Linked DNA regions of Homo sapiens: region 1 is linked to region 2. Evidence: fine-mapped expression QTL. A gene starts in region 2. The other region holds a variant in brackets. All regions are shown on one strand. Distances are from middle to middle.

Region 1 (5,371 bases), 97 kb before region 2:
TAAACACTCAATGTTCCTGGTATCCATAGTGCCAGGGACATGGTCAGCAGTCAGATGTGACTCACTGTGGGCCCAGCATCATAAGAGGCAGGCATAGAAGGCCTGGCTTTGCATTCATATAGCTCACAACTTCACTGAGGAGACCAGTTGTTTATGGGATTGCAGGAAACCCCAGGAAGCCCCAGCCAGGGAAGAGCTTATGTTGTCAAATTCACAGCCTGTAGGAATTCACTGGGTCCACTAGTTCTCTTGCACAGGTGCTACTTTCCAGTTATTTCCTGGTTTTATAAATATGTGTCTCCTCTTTCAACTCCTTGACAAGCTCTTTACGGAAAGGGACATCAGGGCGTCATGTCTAGCGTCTAGTAGCTTCTTTCCCTGATCCTCATCTCCGCACCTGGTACAGGGCAGTGCATGAATGGATGACAAATGATCACCACCATTAACAGGCATTTGTCAGCCGGGCACGGGGGCTCACACCTGTAATCCCAGCACTTTGGGAGGCCAAGGCAGGTGGATCACCTGAGGTCAGGAGTTCGAGACCAGCCTGACCAACATGGTGAAACCCTGCCTCTACTAAAAATACACAAATTAGCCGGGCACAATACACCGATAATCCCAGCTACTCAGGAGGTGGAGGCAGGAGAATCACTGGAACCCGGGAGGCAGAGGTTGCAGTGAGCTGAGATTGAGCCACTGCACTCCAGCCTGGGTGACAGAGCAAGACTCTTGTCTCAAAAAAATAAAACAAAAAAACAAAACAAAAAAAACGAGGCATCCATCACTGGGTCTCTTCATGAGACACAACCAAGAAACACAATGTGAGTGAATTCTCCAGTTCTGGTAGATGAAGGAGAGGGAAGGAGGGCTTCTCTGCTGACTTAGTGCCTCTCTTTTGCTCAATGTTACCATCAGATTCTGAATGTTTTCTACGAGAAATTACTGAGATGCAAATCAAGAAGTGTGAATTTAACAAGAGCCAGTTGGTTTCCTACTTTCATTTGGGTGCCTTTTTTTGTTTTTTGTTTTAAACAGGGTCTCACTCTGTCACACAGGCTGGAGTGCGGTGGCACCAATCATGGCTCACTGCAGCGTCAGCCTCCCGGCAGCATCAACGGCACCGGGCCTGGGTGCCTCTTAACTGGTTATCTGTACCTGTTACTGCTCGGTGGTCTAAGTGGGTGAGATCAATTTCAGGGTTTCTCCAGTTCAATGTGAGCTTGTGGTGAGAGAAGAGTGTCCCTGGTCCCTCCTGCTGCTTTTTGCTCTGGTTCCCAGCTTGCTCCTTGCAACTTCTTCCTAGTCCAGGACAGATTTACTGGAAGTTTCTTTAGAGGCAGTGCTTTAGGGCTTTGGTCTTCATCTGTTGGGTTGTACTGTTTGTCGTTTGTCATGTTTGCTTTGCAAGCCTGGTGGCTAATGTTGCTTGCATTGGCTCACTGCTCTTGGGGCCATCTGTAACCTGTATCAACCCCGGATGCTTTGAAGTTCAGTGTGCAATAAAAAGTTCATTAAAAAGATGTGGAATCATGAAAATAAGGTTACAGAAATGTTAACAAAGGATCATATCCTGCTTCTGGTACTTTTCTTTTTTAAAAAATGTATTTCTTTGAGAAATTTATGTCAGCATTTAAACCATGGAAGAGTTTAGGAAGGACAGGCCTGGGTCAAAAGGAGGGTGAGATTCTTGAGGAGATATCTTGGCAGAGCCCCAGCCTGTTGTCTTAATTGAGAGCTCAGGGTCTAAGGAGAGAATGTGAGCCAGAAAAAAAAAAATCTAGGTTTCTTATGACTAACAGTTTGAACCCAGCTTTTTTTTTTTTTTTTTTTTTTTTTTGAGACGGAGTCTCATTCTGTCACCCAGGCTGGAGTGCAGTGGCACAATCTCAGCTCATTGCAACCTCTGTCTTCTGGGTTCCAGCGATTCTCCTGCCTCAACCTCCCAAGTAGCTGGGATTACAGGCGTGTGCCACCACACCCAGCTAATTTTTTTGTAATTTTAGTAGAGACAGGGTTTCACCATGTTGGCCAGGTTGGCCTCAAATTCCTGAGCTCAAGTGATCCTCTAGCCTCGGCCTCCCAAAGCGCTGGGATTACAGGCATGAGCCATCACACCCAGCCAGGTTCCTCTTTTTCGCAGGTCCTCCATGTTCGGGTGCCCACACGTAATACACAACCAGCCCCTGCATCCTTGCTCTCCTCTATTTTTGGGGGGCAAATATCCTAGAGGCTCATTCGGTTATATGACCATTGATGACCATTTAATTACTACTCATGTTTAATAATAAGCAATTATGTGATCGTCACTTACTTTTCAGCCAGAGGGTCACCATGTGTACACTTAGCAGCTGCTAAATCTTAGTCCTAACAATGATAGTCCCATATCCTCCCAAGCGACCGTGAGGACCTCAACAGCTTGCACATCTAATAAACAGCACTGCAGGGTTTTCAGGGCTGCCACCGGACAGCTCTGGGTCACAGCCAGACTTACCCTCTCTCTTTCCACCTGGTTGTGGTTGAGCCTCATGAGTTCTGCAAACCTCTGCTCATAGAGGTGAAGCAGCAGCACCAGGTACAAGCCTGAATTCATCAGCTCGTTTTGTGCCTACAAATGGAAAAGAAAGCTCTTCAGTTCATCTGTAAAATAGTCATGGTCTAAATTGTGGGATGCAGGGTAACAAGGCTAAGAGGTGACAAGAACTGGGAGAAGAGCCCAAGCTCCAAGGCAAGGCCTGCTCTTGGGGACCAGAAGACAGAGCAGGAGGAGATCCAGGGTAGAGGCCAGGGCAGCCACTCCCCTGGGATTTTTTACTAGCTAGTGGAGGATGCTCGGAGAAAGTTCCATTTTCCAGGCTCAATCCCATTCCACATTTATTGAGCAGTTACATATGCAAAGCCTTGAGCTGGATGTTGTGGGGAACACAGGGCAAAAAGCCTCAGAACTCCCTGCTGGGAACCGATCACCTGGTGTGGGGGAGAGAGCTTCATCGGTAAACAGCTCCAGTACAAGCTGGATGTGTCGGGTGCTACAACAGAGATGCACCAGGCCTTGTCCATAACGTTCTCAGCAGTCACAGATGTCCCCTTGTGAAAGGCTTCCTGAGGAGCCTCCTTTGCCCCCATCATTCCTT[T/C]GCTTCCCAGTCCCTAAGCATTCGTCTTGATCTTGCATATCACCTTTTGCACTTGTTAACGTTTCCGCTTTCTCTTGAGGAGTGGGCTGTGCTTTTTTTCTCGCTGGTGCTCAGAACAGGCGCTACACAGGGAGGATGTGATGGTCTGGCTGCCCATGGCACTTCTCTGTCCTTAGCACTTGGGCTTTGCTGCCAAGAGTGGCTGTGCTCACTCTAGACCTTTCACAGACCTTCCATAAATCAGTGGTATTAGTAACAACTACTCCTATCCCTCTATAGGGGAAGGAGGGGAAGGCCCTTTCAGTCCCCATCTTTCCCTTGAGTGGGGGTCTTGGGATGGGCCAGGCTGTGCTCACAAAGCCACCCAGCCCCCGGGGAATAGAGTCCCCAGCAGAGGGCATGGCCCCTTCCGTCACCCTTGGGAAAGCTTGCAACTGTGACTCTGTCGGCCCAGGATAACGATGCGTGGGCATGAATGACACAGTGAGCACTCAGTGTCTCATCTGCCTTCTTCCTGCAGCAGCGCGGGTGCCACATCTTCCTGTTCTCATTAGATCCAGGGCAGCTCAGGAGGTTGGCACAGAACCCACCTCTCCCAGGACCAAGCAGCTGCCAGAAAAGGCACAGAAGTTGAGCAAGGATTGATATGCTCTTCCTTCTGAATCAGGGCCAACTCTGGATCTTGGTGACAGCCGGCCCTGAGATCACTGCTGCAGGCCTCTCCACCATTCTACAGATCCATCTTCGAAGGCCCCAGTCCTCTGTCCTTAGCAGTTAGCCTCCTATTTTTAGCCTTTGGTCGTGTTTTTTGTGCTCTGCTGACCTTGGCCTAGAGTGAGTAGAGAAGAAGTTGCTTGTTTGCATTATTTCTGTTTTATTTATTTAATTTTATTTTTGAGACAGACACAGTCTTGCCCAGGCTGGAGTGCAATGGCGTGATCTCGGCTCACTGCAACCTCCACCTCCCAGGTTCAAGCAATTCTCCTGCCTCAGCCTCCTGAGTAGCTGGGATTACAGGTGTGCACCACCACGCCCAGCTAATTTTTGTATTTTTAGTAGAGATGGGGTTTCATCATGTTGGCCAGGCTGGTCTCGAACTCCTGGCCTCAGGTGATCCACCTGCCTTGGCCTCCCAAAGTGCTGGGATTACAGGTGTAAGCCACCCTGCCTAGCCACTTTTTCTGTTTTAATTGCCTCCTCCTGCCCTCCCCGTGAGTCTGTGCCTGCCTCCGACTGTCTCGCCAACCACCTCTTCTGAGAAGCCTTCCTCACCTGGCTTTTAGCTCCTCCTCACCAACAAAGCCTTGGTCCTTATTTGTTTACCTCATCCCCGGCTTCCTCCTGCAAAAGCTGCCAGTGGTTCTCTCACCAGTGCTCTTTGCCAGCCAGCTTTTATGCTTGAGACACCGGGATGCATGATGACAAATCAATCAGCTAGAAAATGGTTTGGAACTATCAGGTTTGTCAAAGCATTCAGGAAAATCATTTACTTTTTATGACTCAATAAGGCCCAGAGGCATGCAGATGGGAGAATATCCACTAATGTTTTCTGCAGATAATTTGAAAAGTCACTTCTAGCAGATTGTGTCTCTTCTCTGATCTGTGGGAGGGAACCTGCCACACAGTGCCATCAATCTCGCCGGCTCGGTTCCTTTATGTGCGCCCTTTGCAGAGCTGGTGATGCTCGACAAAGGGGCTCAGCCCACCAATCAGAGCAGGCGTGTGATAGTCAACTCCGAATCAGCCTTTACACTCCTGAGCTACAAGTGGGAGGGATTTGTTAACTCAAAGAGTTCCACCGCACTTGGCTGGCCAGGGCCAAATGAACGAGGTTTTGGAGCAGGGCTTACTGGAGCTACGGCCCATCCACCCCTTCCTTGTCCCAATCACATCACACTTTGACTCCCACGTGGAGTTCCCTTTGTGTGCCAGACTGAAGGGAATGGGGGTGGCATTAATAGGAGGGGGCGGGGACATTAAAAAGGAGAAGGCATGTGAAACAGCGCAAAAGGGCTCCGGAGATCTCAGCCCACCTGCCAGCTGTTTTCTCCATTTTGCTAATATTCATTTAGGCCAAGAGACTTGCTACTGACGGAAATTCTCAATATATTCCACTTAAAGAAGCTGACAGCCTGGCTGAATGTTCTATCAAGTCTTCAAATATATTCAAGAGTGCTCCTAGGTATAAGGGTGATTAGGTGACTGCGTGTGTCTGAGGACATCTGTCCTTGGCTGAGATG
Region 2 (5,371 bases):
ATGGTCACTAAAGGGGAGCATCCCAGAGTCCACTTGGATGATACATTTTGGTTGCCAAAGTTAATATAGAAAGCCGGTTAATCTATCACGGCTTTAGAGCAGGGTTAATTTAAGGAGGCTTCTAAGTCAAGAGGCATGAAATAACTTTGTCTAAATAGGAAGTAGCACCCTTTGAATTACTTGCTAAGTTACCTCTGACTTCACAATCACCTACCAAATAAAGGACTTTAAAATGCCTGTAATCCCAGCACTTACAGAGGCCAAGGCAGGTGGATCACTTGAGGTCAGGAGTTCGAGATCGGCCTGGCCAACGTGGCAAAACCCCATCTTTACTAAAAATACAAAAATTTGCTGGGCGTGGTGGTGCACTCCTGTAGTCCCAGCTACTTGGGAGGCTGAGACAGAAGAATCACTTGAACCTGGAAGGCGGAGGTTGCAGTGAGCCAAGATCGCACCACTGCACTCCAGAGAGAGACTCCATCCCCTCAAAAATAAAAAAAAATAATAATAATAATAATAAAATAATAAAAATAAAATTGCCTACAAAAGTCTCTCTTCCTTCCCATAAACTCTCTATTACATTGTATTTTACAATATTTAGAAACATCGTGGTGCCACATGTAATTTTTTATTTAAATACATCAAGTCTTCATGAGATTAAACAAATATTACGGGAACCAAGAAAACGGTATTAGTGTCAGACCAAGAAGATGGTGGGTTACCTCAGTATAAGCAAACATTCTCTGTGTTTGCTTGAAGTTCATACTGCACTCAGTCAGTTTGAAAAACTGACCAGGATGAACAAGAAACAGAAATAACAGTATGGAAATAAAACTACATGAGATAATGCTTAATTCATGGATCTCAGCTTTGTGGGCCTACTCAACCAGATGGCCACTTGAAGCCAAGAATTTTTCCCCAGCAAACACAGAGGGTTGGGGTGGGGGTGATAATAAAATGTGAGCAAGGCGCATGTTTCTAAAATAGCACTCTGTATTCTCTTCTATCGCTCACCTTTGAACTGCTTCTTAATTTAAAACCCACTCATGGTTATGCACACTTCTGTTTTAAGTCTTTCTGGTGATAATGTCTTGTGCCAAATCTGTGCTTTAGAAATCAACATAAGAAGCCATATTAAGTAGGGAGAGAGAAAGGAGGAGGGAGTTGGAGGCAGGTGGAGAAGGAAGGAGGGGGTCCTGCCTTGCTGAAAGCAAGAGCGAGTAATTCTTCTTGGCCTCAAAATTCTACATATCTGTGAAATTTTAATGGGGGAATATTCTAAGAACTTTGTGACATACACGTTCTTCTCTAGTGTAATTTTCCAGTGAATTCCAACCAAGTTTTCCTGACTGAGGGGAACAGAATCTGATTGCAGAATGTTTTTCAGTGCTCTAAAAGTCATGCATACGTACCATCCCTCTGTTTTATGACCACATTTGTCAAAAGAACTGATTTGAAGGAGCCTGTTCTTAATAACAATCAAAGTCTTATTGGTTTCTTACTATGTTCTCATAAGAGAAAGACATCACTAAAGTTAATATGCTGTTAAGCAATAAAGGAAATGTAAACAATCTAACCTCCTCCTTAGACGGAAGGTTGCTTTGAAATAAAATCTAAATGGCTATTGTTAATACCGGACAATCAGGCTCGAAAATTACTCCCTTTCCACAATTAGGTGATTGGAGAAGGATTTCAGGAGACCTTATTCAACCTTTTCCCCAATTGATTAATTTGTAATGTCAGACATTATAGGATTTGTTTAAATCTTAGCTCTAAAAAAAACTTTGCATTTTAAAGTCTTAGCTTATAAACATGTCTTGAGTATAAGCAACAAAGTTTACGATTTGGGCCCAATTTAAGAATACTGTGACTGCAGAGAAAAAGGGGGAATTGGTTGGGAAAGGTAAGGAGATCTTTCAACTCTTCCAGCCAATTTGGCTTAAGAGTTGGGGGCGGGGTGGAGGGTGGGGAACAGACTTGTGTTTGGCGGTGACTCTTCATTTTACTGTGAAACTAGGAGAGATAGGTGGTCACATTTCGACCATCAAGCCCAGAAGAGAGGAGAAACTCAACGTGTAATTGGGAAACTCTGGGGGAGGAAACGTCACAGGTTTGACAAGCAATTCAGTGCCATCATTAATAACAATATCCAGCCAGAGAAACATAACGAGACCCCTTCTTTACAAATAATTTAAAACATTAGCCAGACATGGTGTTGGCCTGTGGTCCCAGCTACCACCGGGAGGCTGAGGCGGGAGGATCGCTTGAGCCTGGGAGGTCGAGGCTGCAGTGAGCCCTGACTGCACCGCTGCACTCCAACCTGGGAGACAGAGCGAGACTCCTTCTCAAAAATAAACAAAATCAATATCGACCATTTCGCATTCAGAAGCCCAGTGGGCCATGGTCTGTGTATACCTTTTCTGACCAGTGGCGTCTGCAGGAAAGAATGTGGGTGCCAGTGAGCAAAGGTTCACGGTCTCCCCCAAACCTGTCCCTCTGAGACAGAAAAATGCTGGGGCTGGGGTCAGCCGAGGGGAGGGGACGGCCAGGCCACCGGATGTCAGGCCCGGTTTCCCTCCAGAATCTTGTAAGTCGAAAGGGAAGGTTGTCCCCCATCCTGGGAGAACTGGAGCGGAGCGGCGGGGGCGAGGGGGCCGTTACCTGTGGGTCTGCCCTTCCTCCCCTGCCGGGGCTACAGGGGTCGAGGGGCTGGGCGGGCGGGCCGGTCCAGGGCGCAGGAGCCGCCCATTAATTGCGCGGGGACGGCCCTGAGCTCCTCTTCCTCCTCCTCTTTTTGCTTCTTCACTCCCTACACCTGCCCCTCTTCCTCCTCCTTCCCCGAGGCTGCTTTCCGCGGCGCCGGCCGGCCTTGCCTGGGGCGGAGGCGGTGGGGGCGGCTACCGGGCGTCCTCCGGTTTCCCTAGCAACCGCGCCTCCCCGCCCCCGCGCGACCAGGTGCAGCCGCCGAGAGCACGGGGCGGGGCGGGGCGGGGCTGTGGCCCCGGGGTCCCAAGCCAGTCGTGGGCGCCCGCCGGTTGCCGTGGGAACGAGGCGGGCTGCAGTCGGGGAGTCAGAGCCACGCTGGTGGGCAGAGAAGAGATGCCCAAGGAGGAGGCGGTTGGCTTTGTCTGGGTGCCCAAGCCCAGACCCAGATATCCAGGCCTCTGCTCCCTTCCCTGAAAGGGTGCTGTGCTTCATAAAAAATGAGATTAGAAAACGAGAGAGGAAAATATTTTTAATGGAATCAGGGAATGTGAAAAGCGGTACATGCGAAGAGGAAAAGATACTGCAGTCCTGGAGTTCGACCTCTGCAGAGGACATCTGGAATGCTCTGGTCCAACACGAAAAAGAAGAAATAAGCGATGAAGCCAGGCACCCAGTCAGTGGCAGAACCGACATTAGAGCCCAGGCCTCTTCGTAATCAGTCGTCTTCACCCCCTTTCCAAGGAGAGAGGTGCTTAGAGGCCTAGACCAGGCCCTACAGCTTTGGAGCCAGGGCACCAGAACCGCTACTACCCTCACCTTCTCTGTGCCAGGTTGATTTCTTTCTTTTTCTTTTCTTTTCTTTTCTTTTTTTTCTTTCTTTCTTTTTTTTTTTTTTAGACAGAGTCTTGCTCTGTAGCTCAGGCTGGACAGTGCAGTGGCACGATCTTGGCTCACTGCAACCTCTGCCTCCGGGGCTCAAGCGATTTTCATGCTTCAGCCGTCCGAGTAGCTGGGATTACAGGCATGCGCCACCACACCCGGCTAGTTTTTGTATTTTTTTTTTTTTTTTAAGTAGAGACGGGGTTTCTCCATGTTGGCCAGGCTGGTCTCGAACTCCTGACCTCAAGTGATCCGCCCGCCTGGGCCTCCGAAAGTGCTGGGATTACAGGCATGAGCCACCTTGCCCGGCTTTGCCGGGTTGATGTCTGTCTGTGGTTCTCATGGGCAAAGATGACTCCCCTATTTACTTTGCATATTTAGGCTCTCAACTTGTCAACTGATGTCAAGTTAGGGTATTTTTGATTGAGTGGAGAGTAAGGTAAAGGAAGAATAGAAATTCTTGGAACTTTCATCAGTGCCCGGAATCCCTAGGTGTCTGTGGTTTGACCGTCTTCTCAACACCTCCCCTTCCCCCCATTCAGTTGGTGCCAAGTCCTTGGCAGCGTCACATTCTTCTTTCTATTCTTATCACTCTAGTTTTGGGCTCCATGACCTAGTTTTGGGCTCCATGGATTATTCTGAGGGCCTCCTGGTCACACCCTGGGCGCCTGTCCTCCACACCCTATCTTCACCATTTCCCCCATCCTATAAGCAGCCTACATCTAATGTTGCTGGCCCCCTGCTTAAAAAGCCCTGAAAGGTTCCTCACCGCCTGTGGAATGAAGTCCAAACTCGTCACTATGACTTTCCCTGTGCCCTCCCCCACAGTTTCCTTTCTTGGTTTTTCCCCTTCATCACTTCTTCACTCATACTTCAGCCAGATGGGACTATGTGTTACACACTGAACATTTTTCCTTGCCTTCACACCAGCTTCAAAGACATATCATGAGCTGGGCAGAGTCTAGACAAATGTACTTAGCTGAAGTCTTTCCACTGGGCACTTTCCCATCTGAACTTCGCTGGTCCTCCAGCAGACCCTAGGATCTTTTCATCTCTAGTAGCCCAGTCCATATTCTGTTCTTGTTCTCAGCTGATTATCAAGTATTCCTTAGTAAAGCATTAACTGATAATTGAAGTATTAACTGATAAGGATGTAACCTAAGAACTTGCCTCATGGTTTTTGCCTTTCAAAAGGATATGCTTTGGGCCAGGCATGGTGGCTCACGCTTGTAATCCCAGCACTTTGGGAGGCCGAGGCAGGGGGATCACCTGAGGTCAGGAGTTTTGAGACCAGCCTGGCCAACATGGTGAAACCCCATCTCAACTAGAAATACAAAAATTAGCCAGGTGTGCTGGCAGCCACCTGTAAACCCAGCTACTCAGGAAGCTGAGGCAGGAGAATTGCTTGAACCCAGGAGGCGGAGGTTGCACTCCAGCCTGGGCGACAAGAAACTCTGTCTCAAAAAAAAAAAAAAAAGTTTGGATGCGCACACTGGGTTGAAACTATAATAGTGAAATGATAGGTAGGGAGCTTGTTCTGTTGGCGCGAGGACCCACCTCAAATAAAAATAACAGAGGAGGAAGTTGAAGCCCAGGTTCTCACCTTGTTGAAGGTAAGGGACATGACCAGAACATATGGTAAGTACCAGAACCAGGGTTCAAAAACAGGGCTTTCCATCTCCAGTAACTTGATGTTGCCCACTACTAAGAAAAGCACCTTGGTACTTCCTGTACCCAGACAAGATCTATTAAAATAATACTATCTATCTCAAAAGCTTGCTGTGGG

Direction of the effects. Positions count from the first base shown, and alleles are read on the strand shown. Sizes are in standard deviations (SD) of each study's normalised expression.
For the expression in NK cells of the gene that starts at base 2,899 in region 2, T is the low allele of the variant in region 1 and C is the other (moderate effect, 0.69 SD a copy in Gilchrist 2021).

Evidence for each region. PIP is the estimated chance that this variant, and not a neighbour inherited with it, causes the effect. A credible set is the group of variants that fine-mapping cannot tell apart.
Region 1: its variant is the best candidate, but not a certain one, in a credible set for the expression of MARCHF10 in NK cells (Gilchrist 2021, PIP 0.73).

The regions. Positions count from the first base shown.
Region 1 is chr17:62,708,740-62,714,110 of GRCh38, forward strand. MARCHF10 (membrane associated ring-CH-type finger 10) reads right to left here. Exons shown (of 11, transcript NM_152598.4): 9 at 2,492-2,605. The region is part of intron 2 of MARCHF10-AS1 (MARCHF10 antisense RNA 1); the gene reads left to right. Among named protein-coding and RNA genes, the nearest start is that of MARCHF10-AS1, 5.2 kb to the left of the region's middle. The variant T/C (reference allele first, on the strand shown) is at 3,132.
Region 2 is chr17:62,805,416-62,810,786 of GRCh38, forward strand. It overlaps MARCHF10 (membrane associated ring-CH-type finger 10), which reads right to left and starts at 2,899. Exons shown (of 11, transcript NM_152598.4): 1 at 2,662-2,899. MARCHF10-DT (MARCHF10 divergent transcript) reads left to right here and starts at 3,087. Exons shown (of 2, transcript NR_135634.1): 1 at 3,087-3,536. RefSeq lists a silencer at 2,788-2,937.